Regions from separate parts of the Homo sapiens genome. Here region 2 is linked to region 1. Evidence: fine-mapped QTL for protein levels in blood plasma. A gene starts in region 1. The other region holds a variant in brackets. All regions are shown on one strand. Distances are from middle to middle.

Region 1 (5,372 bases):
TCCTGTCGCTGCTGTTTGAAAACTTAAGAAAGTAAGCTCAGAAACCAGACACCAGACGTGGATAAAAGACAGAAAAATAAAATGTTATCAGTACATATTCGTATTTTTGCTCCTATTTTCCGTTTACTAGCTATATTCCAGCATATCTCATTTCCAGTTATATTAAACAAGAGAAAATAAATTCACAAACCAAAGACCCTCGAAACATGATACTAAGCGAGATAACAACACCACTTTTTTACTAGTGCCATATTGGCAATTTGCAGGGGACTCCCTGCAAGGTCTCTGTCAAAAGACTGCAAAATAGTTACTCCTCTTTTAAGCAGAGAAGCTGTCTTCGAAGGAAGACTGCAGGTCCCTTGCCTTGCACATGATAAAACTGAGCCCAGTAACTGGTGGCATACTAGTTGACAAGGAAGACAAAAGGGTCATGAGAATAACACATGGTAATATTACATATACGTGGTAATTTGAACCTGCCCTCTCGACTCCTCAACTCAACATGCTTTCTAGGTCCCACCCACCACCACTATCACCTACAGCAAATGGAGGATCAGTTATCCCCAAGAGTCTTTAAGGACTAGATAATCTGGGAAAAAATACATTTGAAAACCATCAAGTGCTAATACGAAGCCAGCTACCATTTACCGGGTGCTTTCTGTGCCAGGTAAAATAATACACACTTTCTATAATTTTTACTTTGGCTTCCTAACACAAACTTTGCCAAATTGTCTCATTATCCTCAAATGCAGGTGAGTGACTTAAGTTTTACACCTGATTAGCCACAGAAGAGGATGTCAACCCAAAGCTTTTCCAAACACCAGCCTGTCTCATCATTGTAAGCAATGACTATGATTAGTAATTTCGAATTTAGAGTAACAGAGAACCTGGCACCTATTTTTAGCACACAACTGGCACCTCTTTTTAGCTAGGGACATGCAGGGACTCAGTCACTGAAAGTCTCTAACTGGGATGCAGGTATCCTAAGTCACTCTCTAGAAGGAAAAGGTACAGCCTTCCCAGTTTTCCACCAACCCTGACCATCCTGGCCAAGGAGCAGGCCCTTGTGCCTGGCCTCTTCCTCCTCCCCTACTCAGATAAGACTGGCGAATGCACGTGGAGTACTTGGAAAAGATGCTTATTAGCTGCAGCCTTCCCTCTCCCGGCCTAATCCATCTGGTCCCTGGTGCCCTGGCCCCCTGGGCTCCAAGGCTGAGCCAGTGAGTTAGCCCAGGGCCCAGGAGCCAGGGCTGCTTCTTTTCCCCACAAACCTCTCCAAGCCCTGGCCCACATAAATTCAGCCCTGTGCTTGAGTATCTAAAGCCAAATGTCATGACTCTTCCCCGACAACATAGATCCCGACTAAGGTCAGCCGACAGCTGTCCCAACCCTTTGCTTGTAGCAACCACAGAGGATGATGCTTGACACCCTGAGCCGTGAGCCAAGCGAGATCAGCCTCCGACCTCACTAGCCTCAAGGGCAACCTCAGCCCTCTCCCCACCATCGACAGCCCTAGACCTTACCCACGAGTAGGCCAATGGCTTCCAACCTCCCCAAAGTGTCCGCGAAAGTACCTATCTCACAGTGGGTCCTTACTATGAGTTTCCTAACCGTGCAGAGCAGTCAGGCAGCGGGCCACCCTCCTCCGAGTCAGTCATTGACAAATCGCCCCGAAACGCCTATATTAGCTCGAAGTGAGGATAAGTGAACCTTTAGGACTTTACCTACTGCTCAAGTTGGCAACAGTACAGAGCCCCAGATCCTCAAGACCCAGTGAAATCAACTACACCCTCAGCCCAGACTCTACTCCAGGGCAGTACTCCTCGCCCTAACCCGGCTCGAACCTTCAGACAGACCCCGGCGGATGGAGCCCCGCTCCCCAGCCCGGCGCGGCGGAACCCCTCGGCCTCGTGCAGCGATGCTCCTGGGCCCGGGGCGGAGGGCGCCTGCCCGGCACACTGGCCTGACCTTGTCGGAGCTCCGGGTCGTCCAGCACGTTGTAGGCCGCGTAATCGCGGACGCCGTGCAGCCGCAGGATCTGCACCACGGCGTTGCTGAAGCCGCACTGGGGCTGCTCCGGCGTCCCCTTGAGGAAGACCACCACCTTGTCCTTCTTCACCAGCGCGTCCAACTGCTCCGCCGAGCCGCCGCCGCCCGCGCCCGAGCCCGCCGCCCGCACGCCCGGACCCCAAAGGCCACCGCCGCCCGCGCCGCGCCCCCAGCGGAGCAGAGCCGCCGCAGCTCGGCCGAGGGACCCGCTCATCTCCGCACGCAAGCCGGAGCCCACGACGGCCCGGGCCCACAGCTGGCCACCCAGAGCGCTCCCCGGCCCGCGGCAGTCCGACCCGCCCCCTGGAGGCCCTCATTGGGCCGGCTCTAAACTGCCCTCCGTGATTGGACAATACTGATCAGTAATTACTCGATTCCACCAATCATGTTGCTCGTCCCGCCCGGCAGGTAGGAGGTGGGCCTTATGCCGGAGCCTCATCCTACTGCCTTACTATTGGTCGTCGGCAACCGCTTTGTTAGTTAATTGGAGAGACTGGATGTCCATCAGGGTCACGCTTGCAGGGCAACGAGAGGCAAAACAAGAGGGAAGACGACTTTCCTCCTGTGAGCCAATGAGGCCAGCTGGACTACGCCGAGACAACTGGGAGAGGCGCGGGACTCGCCCGTTCCGCGGAACGCCGGGAAGGGGTCACCTCCTGATGAAGTTTCCGGTTCCGGTGTCAGCGGCGGTTGAATTGCCATGGCAATGCGGTGGGCGCGCGCTTGTCGTGTTGGTCTCTTGGGAGGTAGCGGGGCTAGGCCGGGCGGGTATCCGCCTCTCCCAGCTTAGGTGAGCGTCCCCGGGCGCCTCCGGAGCGCCGCGGCCGCATGCAGTTCGTCGTGGCGGGGAGCCGGAGCCTGACCGGGGTTCCAGCGCTCGGGCCGTAGCCTTGGCTCCTGGACTTTCCCTGGCTCCGCCGCCACGTGGGAGCTGAGGCTCTGGGGCTTCCGCCTCCGGCGCGCGATTATTTCTCTAGAACAGTTTTCATTTTTAAAATTTGTAAAGCGCTTTTGCCTGTGTGATTTCCTCTGGGTTTTTTTTTTTTTTCTTCCTTTTTGTAGAGACGGAATTGGCGGCGGGGGCGGGGGGTCGATGTCTCACTTTTTTGCCCAGGCTGGTCTCGAACTCCTGGCTTCAAGGGATCCTCCTGCCTCGGCCTCTTAAAGTGCTGGGATTACAGGCGTGAGCCACCGCCCCCGGCCGCCTCTGAGTTTCCAGCCTCGTTGGCCCTCCAGCCTTTTAACCTGTTGGGCCTAGGATCAGGAAAGGTTTGTTGAATGGGGAACTAAGAAGTGAATTCGTTCGTTCGACAAACGTTTCCTGAGCAGCCGCTGGGTGCTAGGCGCAGTGCCAGCGCGGAATGTCCAGGGAGACCTGGTGCCCAAAGCTTGGACCCATCGTGAGAAATGAGAAGCAGATACAAAGCAGTGTGGGAGTGCAGAGGAGACAAAGCAAGCCTCATCAGGCCCATTGCTTGCTCTGCTCTCCCTTGTACTTACCAGTGCTTGACAATATACAGTTATTTACTAGCTTGGTTATTGACTTCCTACCCAGCACTCAGTTTTATTCACTGCTGTATCCTCAGTGCCTAGGACGATGCTTGGAACGTGGTAAGTGCTCCTATTGGCGGGAAGAATAAATCCGGAAGAGCAGGACCAGTGGACTTGCTACATAATCTGTAGTCTTGGAGCCGCACAGGGTTGGTGGTACCCTCGAGCACACCAGACTTGCAGAAAAAGCATACTCCAGAGGAAGCTGAGGCATGCCTGCTCGAGAGCCAGCTGTTCCATGTGCAATTTTCCTCTGATAGTTTCTGGTCACTGTTGCCACGGTGATAATGACTGGGCTATGTCATTATCTATCCGCCAACAGTAAGAGAAGCTTTGCAGTCGAGATATTGTTTAGCAGATGGAGTGTTTTCTGTTGAACACTAAGTACTGCCACAAGTTACTTTTTTTTTTTTAAACTTTGAGTATTTTTTTACAATGTTGCTGGAGGTGATCTGTTTATGCTTTGAGAGTGTTCGAATTTAAAATCAGAAAATCATGTCAGTGAGTGAGTCTTTCAAATAATCCTTCGGCATGAAACCTGAGCCTAGTAAACTATGAAAGTAAACTCGGCACATTACCCGAAAGTCTCAATGTCATATTTTCACCCCCATCAATATTATTGATGATTGCTCATTTTCTAATGTGGGACCTGAAATTTACCAGGTGCTTAAAGAATCTTTTTGTTTTTCAGATTCATTGATTCCAGGTAAATCAGAGGAACAAGCAACATGAACAGAAATATGTAGAAAAAGCTATTATGCAGAAGCATAATTGTTGTTTCAGAAGTCCAGCATCTGGTGCACTTAACAATAGAGAATATATTAAACTCTTTCCAAAATAACCTGTTGTTCCTACCTGTGTTGTAAGTGTTTTGTTTGTTTTTAAGTAAATATTGGTGATTTGTTGCCAAAAACCTAAACTGTTTGTTGCTGTCAACTTAAATAACGAACAGAGAGAGGCTCTCTAAAAGAAAATGGCATTTATTCAGGAATAGAGCACTGCAATGAGAAAATGCATGCGATAGTTAACTGTGTGTATCCTGGGAGATAGAGGAAGACAAAGGTCTTTAAAGGAAAAATGAGGAGGGTTACATAATTGTTTTGAGATAATTATTTTTGACTACAAGGATCAGTAACAAAGGTGACACCAGTCCCAGGTTGGACAGGCAGGTGCTCGGCAGGCATTGCAGAAGTATTTTTTGTGTAAGATTGAGATGGCCTTTGTGCAGGATTGTGGTTTTGGAATCTTCTGTGATCGTTTTTGCTATCAGGCATTTATGCTTGCGAACTCTTTATGGCCTTCCCTGTGTCTATTTTGATTCCACCTTTCTCATTGCCCACTCTAAACTGTAATTCTGCTTTTATGTTGACTGAGATCAGGAGAAGAATTTGCAAACTTATATCCTGAGACAGAACAGTAATGAGGAGTATCGTGTTCCTTACCTAATGTATAATATTGGGCTCAGAAGCAGTTGTCTTTTTTATTTGTTGAACGTTGTATTAAGTTGAGAATGCAGCTGCCATTAAAGATTAAGAGTAATCCTTGAGAAGGAAGAGTACAAAGCCTGTGTTTTGCTAAATCATAGTGAAGTTGCCGTGTTTTTGTAGAATATGATAAGAACATACAGTGTGTGAAATGCTAAGGATATGGAAAAGCATGTTGGTGCTCTTTCAAGGAGCTATTTTGATAGCATGAGCAAGGGCAGGAAACAGATCATGTATCTGAACCAAAGAAATTGAAACAATACATCTAAATTTAAATTTTTAATAAAA
Region 2 (5,372 bases), 15 kb before region 1:
TGTGTAATCTCTATGTATTGATTCATGATTATGCCTGTAGCTTCCACTTTCCTGAAATGTACCCCACCTCTAAAAACCCTTACCCACAAGCCATCAGGGGAGTCAGGATTTGAGCATTTGCTTCCTGGTCCTCCCTGCATGGTGCCCTGCAAATAAATGGCTTCCTTTCTACTGCTGCGAAGCCTCAGTGTGGATATCTGGTCTTACTGTGCTGAGCAGGCAGACCCAAGTTGTGTAACAGTATGGGAGTAAGGAAACCTTTTCCAACGACCTGGTCTCAAAAAGTGAACCACCCATGCATCTTCTTTAGGAAGCTTTGGCAGGATGTGCTCCAGCAGAGCAAAGGAATAAAGCACAAAGACCAAGATGCGGGACACAGGGAACAGAAAACTCAACACAGGAAGAGCAAGGATGATGATAGACATCAGAGGGCAGCTGGAGGGTGGAGGATTCCAGGAGGGAGCTTGGCAGGGGGCAAGGGCTACTATGAGTTATCTGATGCTTCTGTTGAAAAACTTTATTGACAGGTATTTGGCAGATGCCTGTGCACTGTATAAAAATCCAATACAAAATAATCAAATAGAAAATAAACAACTAAAAAAAGGCAATTTTTAATAAATGGAGATAAAAGTTAAAAAAAGGAATACAGCATTTGCTTATTTATATATATTTATTTCACTAACATATATATTGTCAATAATAATGTAAAGACTGATGATTGCGCTAATTGTATAGGGAACAGTGAGAAGTAGGGTAGATTGATGATTATATGAGAGCATTCTTATCTATCAAAATGGCAAAGAGATTAGATAATATCTGATTTATTAGCAAAGAAATAGCAATATAAGCACATTAAAAAATATTGGCTAGGTGCAGTGGCTCACGCCTGTAATCCCAGCATTTTGGGGTCCACCCAGCAGGTGGGTGGATCTCTTGAGCCTAGGAGTTTGAGGCTAGCCTGGCAACACAGTGAGACCCCATCTCTTCTAAAAATACAAAAAATTAGCTGAGCGTAGTGGCACACACATGTATTCCCAGCTACTTGAGAGGCTGAGGTGGGAGAATCGCCTGAGCCTGGGAAGTCGAGGTTACAGTGAATCGTGATTGCACCACTGCACTCCAGCCTGGGCAACAGAGTGAGACCCTGTCTCAAAAAACAAAACAAAACAAAAAAAGAAAGGAAGAGAAAGGAAAATGAAATATGGAGGGAAACAGAAGAAACTGCTTAAGAAATGGAAATTTGTTTCCTATAGAGAGCAGGACCCATGGATCAAAAGGCAGGAGAGTGCTGTTTTTCATTATTACTGTAGTTTTTAAAGTATCATTTGACTAATTATATGCATGCATTGTTTTATTAAAAACGAGGTTAAAATTTCAAATGAATGGGATACTAAAAGCTTATACCCTATTTGACCATGTTTCTGATAACCGCAGGTAACAAAAGGACAACTGTGACCAAGGAAAAGGCTGGGGGGTGGCGGGCAGACAGAGGAAGGTGGGGGCAGCAGCAAGGGCTAGCAGAGGGACACTGCCAGGAAGTGAGAACTTGGGGCAACAGGTGGCCCTGAGTATGGGTAGAAATATCTGACCCCACCCAGGGCTGTGACCGAGGTCGGACGGAAGTGCAGGGAAAGACCAGCAGACCGCGGGAACTCGCTCGTAAAGCACTTTGTTTACTTCCTGCTGTCTGGAATTTCAGAGTGAAGTCCAGTGGGACCTCTGGCCTGGCCACCTGTCCGCACAACACACGGGGCCCAGGAGGCTTTCCCTGGCATCATTTGCAAGGAGGCATCATTTGCATTCACCTTCCATTTGTCTGACCTCAGAGGTGGGACCCTCTGCTTCCTTCACATACTTGATAGTGGATGGCCAGGGGCAACTTCCAAAATTCCTGGCCTCCCTGGCTCTTTCAACAGGCAACTGAAGCTCAAATTCAGTTCTTCTCAGGGCTGCAGGGCGAACACTCTGGACACCACAGCCAGAGCTGCACTAAGCGGCTGCACTCACTGAGCCGGCCCTCCGAAGGGTGCTACAATATGGATCTGATCACAGCTCAAATTCCACCAGGTAGTGACCTTGGACAAGTAACCTGACCCCCTCCCAGTCTCTGTGTCATCATCTGAAAGGAAGAGAGAATATCCCACATTTGCAGATCTTTGGTGAGAAACAAATTACGGATCTAAATGCTCAATAATTGTTTGACCCTTCCCCCTGTCTGCTTATACCAAGTAAGCATCCACCATAAAATCCAGGCAGCCAGGTGTATTAGTCTCCTTTTGCCGCTGTAACAAATGACAAGCTTAGTGGCTTAACACCAATTTTTAATCTTACAGGGCAGGAGGTCAGAAGTCTAAAATGACTTTCACTGGGCTAAAATCATGGCCTGTGTTCTTTCTGGAGACTCCAGGGGAGAATCCGTTTCCTTGGCTTTTCCAGCTCTAGAGACTGCCTGCGATCTTTGGCCTGTGGCCCCTTCCGCCCTCTTCAGAGTACATCACTCCAACCTCTGCTTCCCTCCTGCCCAGGACACCTGTGATTACATTAAGCCCACCCAGGTGATCCAAGACAATCTCTCTATCTCAAGATCCTGAACTTAAACACAGCTTAAACTTACCCCAGGTAACACAGTCACACATTCCAGGGATTAGGACATGGACATCCCACCACACTTTGTACGAAGTGCACCTGAACTGAAGTAACTTAGTCAGGTGTAACTGACACTGCCCCTTGCCCTCTGCTCTCCCAAGAATCATTTTAAGGAGACTTTACTAAGGAATCATGGAAAAAAGTTAAAAAACAACTTAAAGGCCAGGCGCGGTGGCTCATGCCTGTAATCCCAGGGCTTTGGGAGGCCCAGGCGGGTGGATCACGAGGTCAGGAGTTTGAGACCAGCCTAGCCAACATGGTGAAACCCCGTCTCTACTAAAAATACAAAAAATTAGCTGGGCATGGTGGCAGGTGCCTGTAATCCCAGCTACTCAGGAGGCTGAGGCAGGAGAATAGCTTGAACTCAGGAGGCAGAGGCTGCAGTGAGCCGAGACCGCGCCATTGCACTCCAGCCTGGGTAACAGAGAGAGACTCCATCTCAAAAACAAACAAAAAACAAAAGAATTTAAGAAGCCAGAATAACAGGAAGTGTGCTGCTAGTTTCCCAGGATTACAATTTACTTGTAAATGTACTGAAGAACTCTGAAGTTCTCCTTGAGATTTGAAATATTTTAATACCTATGTCAGACTCTGACAGCACCCTAACGCCC[C/T]CAAGATCAGGGCAAGGGGTGAGGGGTATCTGACACCCAGCTGAAGTCTCAGCCTCTGCCCAGCCTGGGTCTGGAGCCAGAAGAGGTCCCCATAGACTCGGGCTCAGCATGGCCTCCCCAGGAAGGTTGCTTCATCGGTGGTGGTGATGATCAAAGCTGATAGCTTGCTCAGGACTAGTGAAGACACATCAATAATCTGGAAATACTTTCCATATTTGCTCACCAAATTTCCTAGGAACCGGCGAACATTTCTACCTCCTTTTTCTGGCAAAACGAATCCCTGTGAAAATGGCTAATGAGGTACAGTAGAACCCAGTGTCACAATCCTTGCTACTGCTAAATTAGAATTAGCTCAAGGTTAAACTGCATTCTTTGAAGCATAACTCAACACAATAACTGTCTAACATATCGGTTCAGAAAAGACTCTCCACTTTGGTATGAAATAGAAGCAGTATTTTTAAAAATAAAACTCGGTGGCAGTAAGTCAAACTATAATCGTAGGAAAGATACTTTACAGGGAATTCTTTCTGGCTGAAGGCCCTGCCGTCCCCTAGGGCTGCTGGGCAGTCCACTGATAGATCATCACAAGGATTAGATCTGTCCTTTGCCTTCAACAATGAGTCTCTATGTTCCAGGGGCAACCAAACATGAACGATGTTGTGTTCATCAGCCTGTCCTTCTCTGCTCCCTTAAACCCTCCGAACGGTGGTGGATACCACAGCGCGGTACCAAGTCCAGGTGTAATCCAACATTAACTGTCAAGGTCAACTTACAGTGAGAGCTCATTATGAGCCATGGTCTCGACAGGGTGCTGTCATCTAAGCTTGTAACACGCCTGAGGTCGGTGGCATCTGCTATTTGCCCACTTAAGCAGGAAGGGAGGTTACTAAGTCGTCTGAGGTCAGTAGCACACCCAGCAAGTGCTGGGATGCAAACCCAGGGAGGGTGACTTGAGTCCCGGCTCTTAGCTACTGCGGTGTTGCGAGGCTGTAACCTGTAATAGCCTAACATTTCTTGTGACTAATCCAAAAGGAATGAAGAAAGGAAATTCTTCACTCTTTTCTAAATGTATTTTTTGGGGCACTCTGTATGCTGGCCAGAGGGGATCTGAATAAAGCCAAGTAACAGGCAGTTAGGTCCTGGAGTGATGAACAAAGAACAGGGCTGTAGAGTGGATTAAAGGGTCTGTTCCGTCTGGGGTCAGGGAAGGCTTTCTGGGATAGGAGAGACTTCACTGTGACACAACCGGGTGCCCCGGGAGGTTCACAAGGAGGAGAATAACATGGCTATTCTGACTGAATCCAGGATAGGGATCTTTGAGGTGAGGTGCACCTTCAGTGGCATCTCTGCCCTAAGGGAGACTCTGCCCTCAGCTCACCTGCACTGGGCTCCCAGGGCAACCGCCAAGAAAACAATGCTCCCCTCACGCAAAATGCCCACATAGCTTTCAGACCTAAAGTGATGCTACTCTCAGGAAATAAGACAGGAATGTGGCTTTACAAGAGTCCACCTGGTCACCCCATGCGTCTCTGTAAGCCCCTGGACCTTAAAATGGCTTTTCTCTTCACCATTCCTCTGCTCTGCTTCATAGTAGCTATTATATGGTTCTTAGGCACAATTTAAAGCTGCTTTTTAGATTTACTAAACAATTCTTAAGTGGAATGTTAAATTTTTAAAACAATCAGTGTTTTGTGTGGCCATCCCCTAATATATATCTTTTCCTGTCGGTGGCTCTCAGGAACCCACATGAAAGCTTTCTCACCTCACATTTAAATTTGTTTCTGCTGGGCGCAGTGGCTCATGCCTGTAATCTTAACACTTTGGGAGGCCAGAGTGGGAGGATCGCTTGAGCCAGGAGTTCAAGACCAGCTTGGGCAACACAGAGACCCTGTCTCTAAAAAATAAAAAAATTAGCCAGGTGTTGTGGTGCACATCTGAAGTCTCAGCTATTCAGGAGGCTGAGTGGGAAGGATTGCTTAAGCCCAGGAGGTCAAGGCTGCAGTGAGCCATAATCAGGCCACTGCACGCCAGCATGGGCAACAGAGCAAGACCCTTTTTCAATCAATCAATCAATCAATCAATCAATCAATCTGCACCAATGAAACCTTGCCGACA

What was found. PIP is the chance, under the fine-mapping model, that this variant and not a neighbour inherited with it causes the effect. Protein levels are from antibody-based Olink assays in UK Biobank. Linkage for the fine-mapping came from a reference panel and not from the study's own genotypes, which makes the PIPs less certain.
Region 2: its variant is fine-mapped to the plasma level of the GLRX5 protein (UK Biobank, PIP above 0.99).

What each region holds. Positions count from the first base shown.
Region 1 is chr14:95,531,981-95,537,352 of GRCh38, reverse strand. It overlaps GLRX5 (glutaredoxin 5), which reads right to left and starts at 2,303. Exons shown (of 2, transcript NM_016417.3): 1 at 1,969-2,303. The coding sequence starts at 2,263. It overlaps SNHG10 (small nucleolar RNA host gene 10), which reads left to right and starts at 2,481. Exons shown (of 1, transcript NR_003138.3): 1 at 2,481-4,441. It also overlaps SCARNA13. RefSeq lists silencers at 1,871-1,930, 2,141-2,430 and enhancers at 2,571-3,030, 2,294-3,083, 3,084-3,873.
Region 2 is chr14:95,546,735-95,552,106 of GRCh38, reverse strand. No RefSeq gene overlaps it. Among named protein-coding and RNA genes, the nearest start is that of GLRX5, 14 kb to the right of the region's middle. RefSeq lists an enhancer at 3,449-4,324. The variant C/T (reference allele first, on the strand shown) is at 3,258.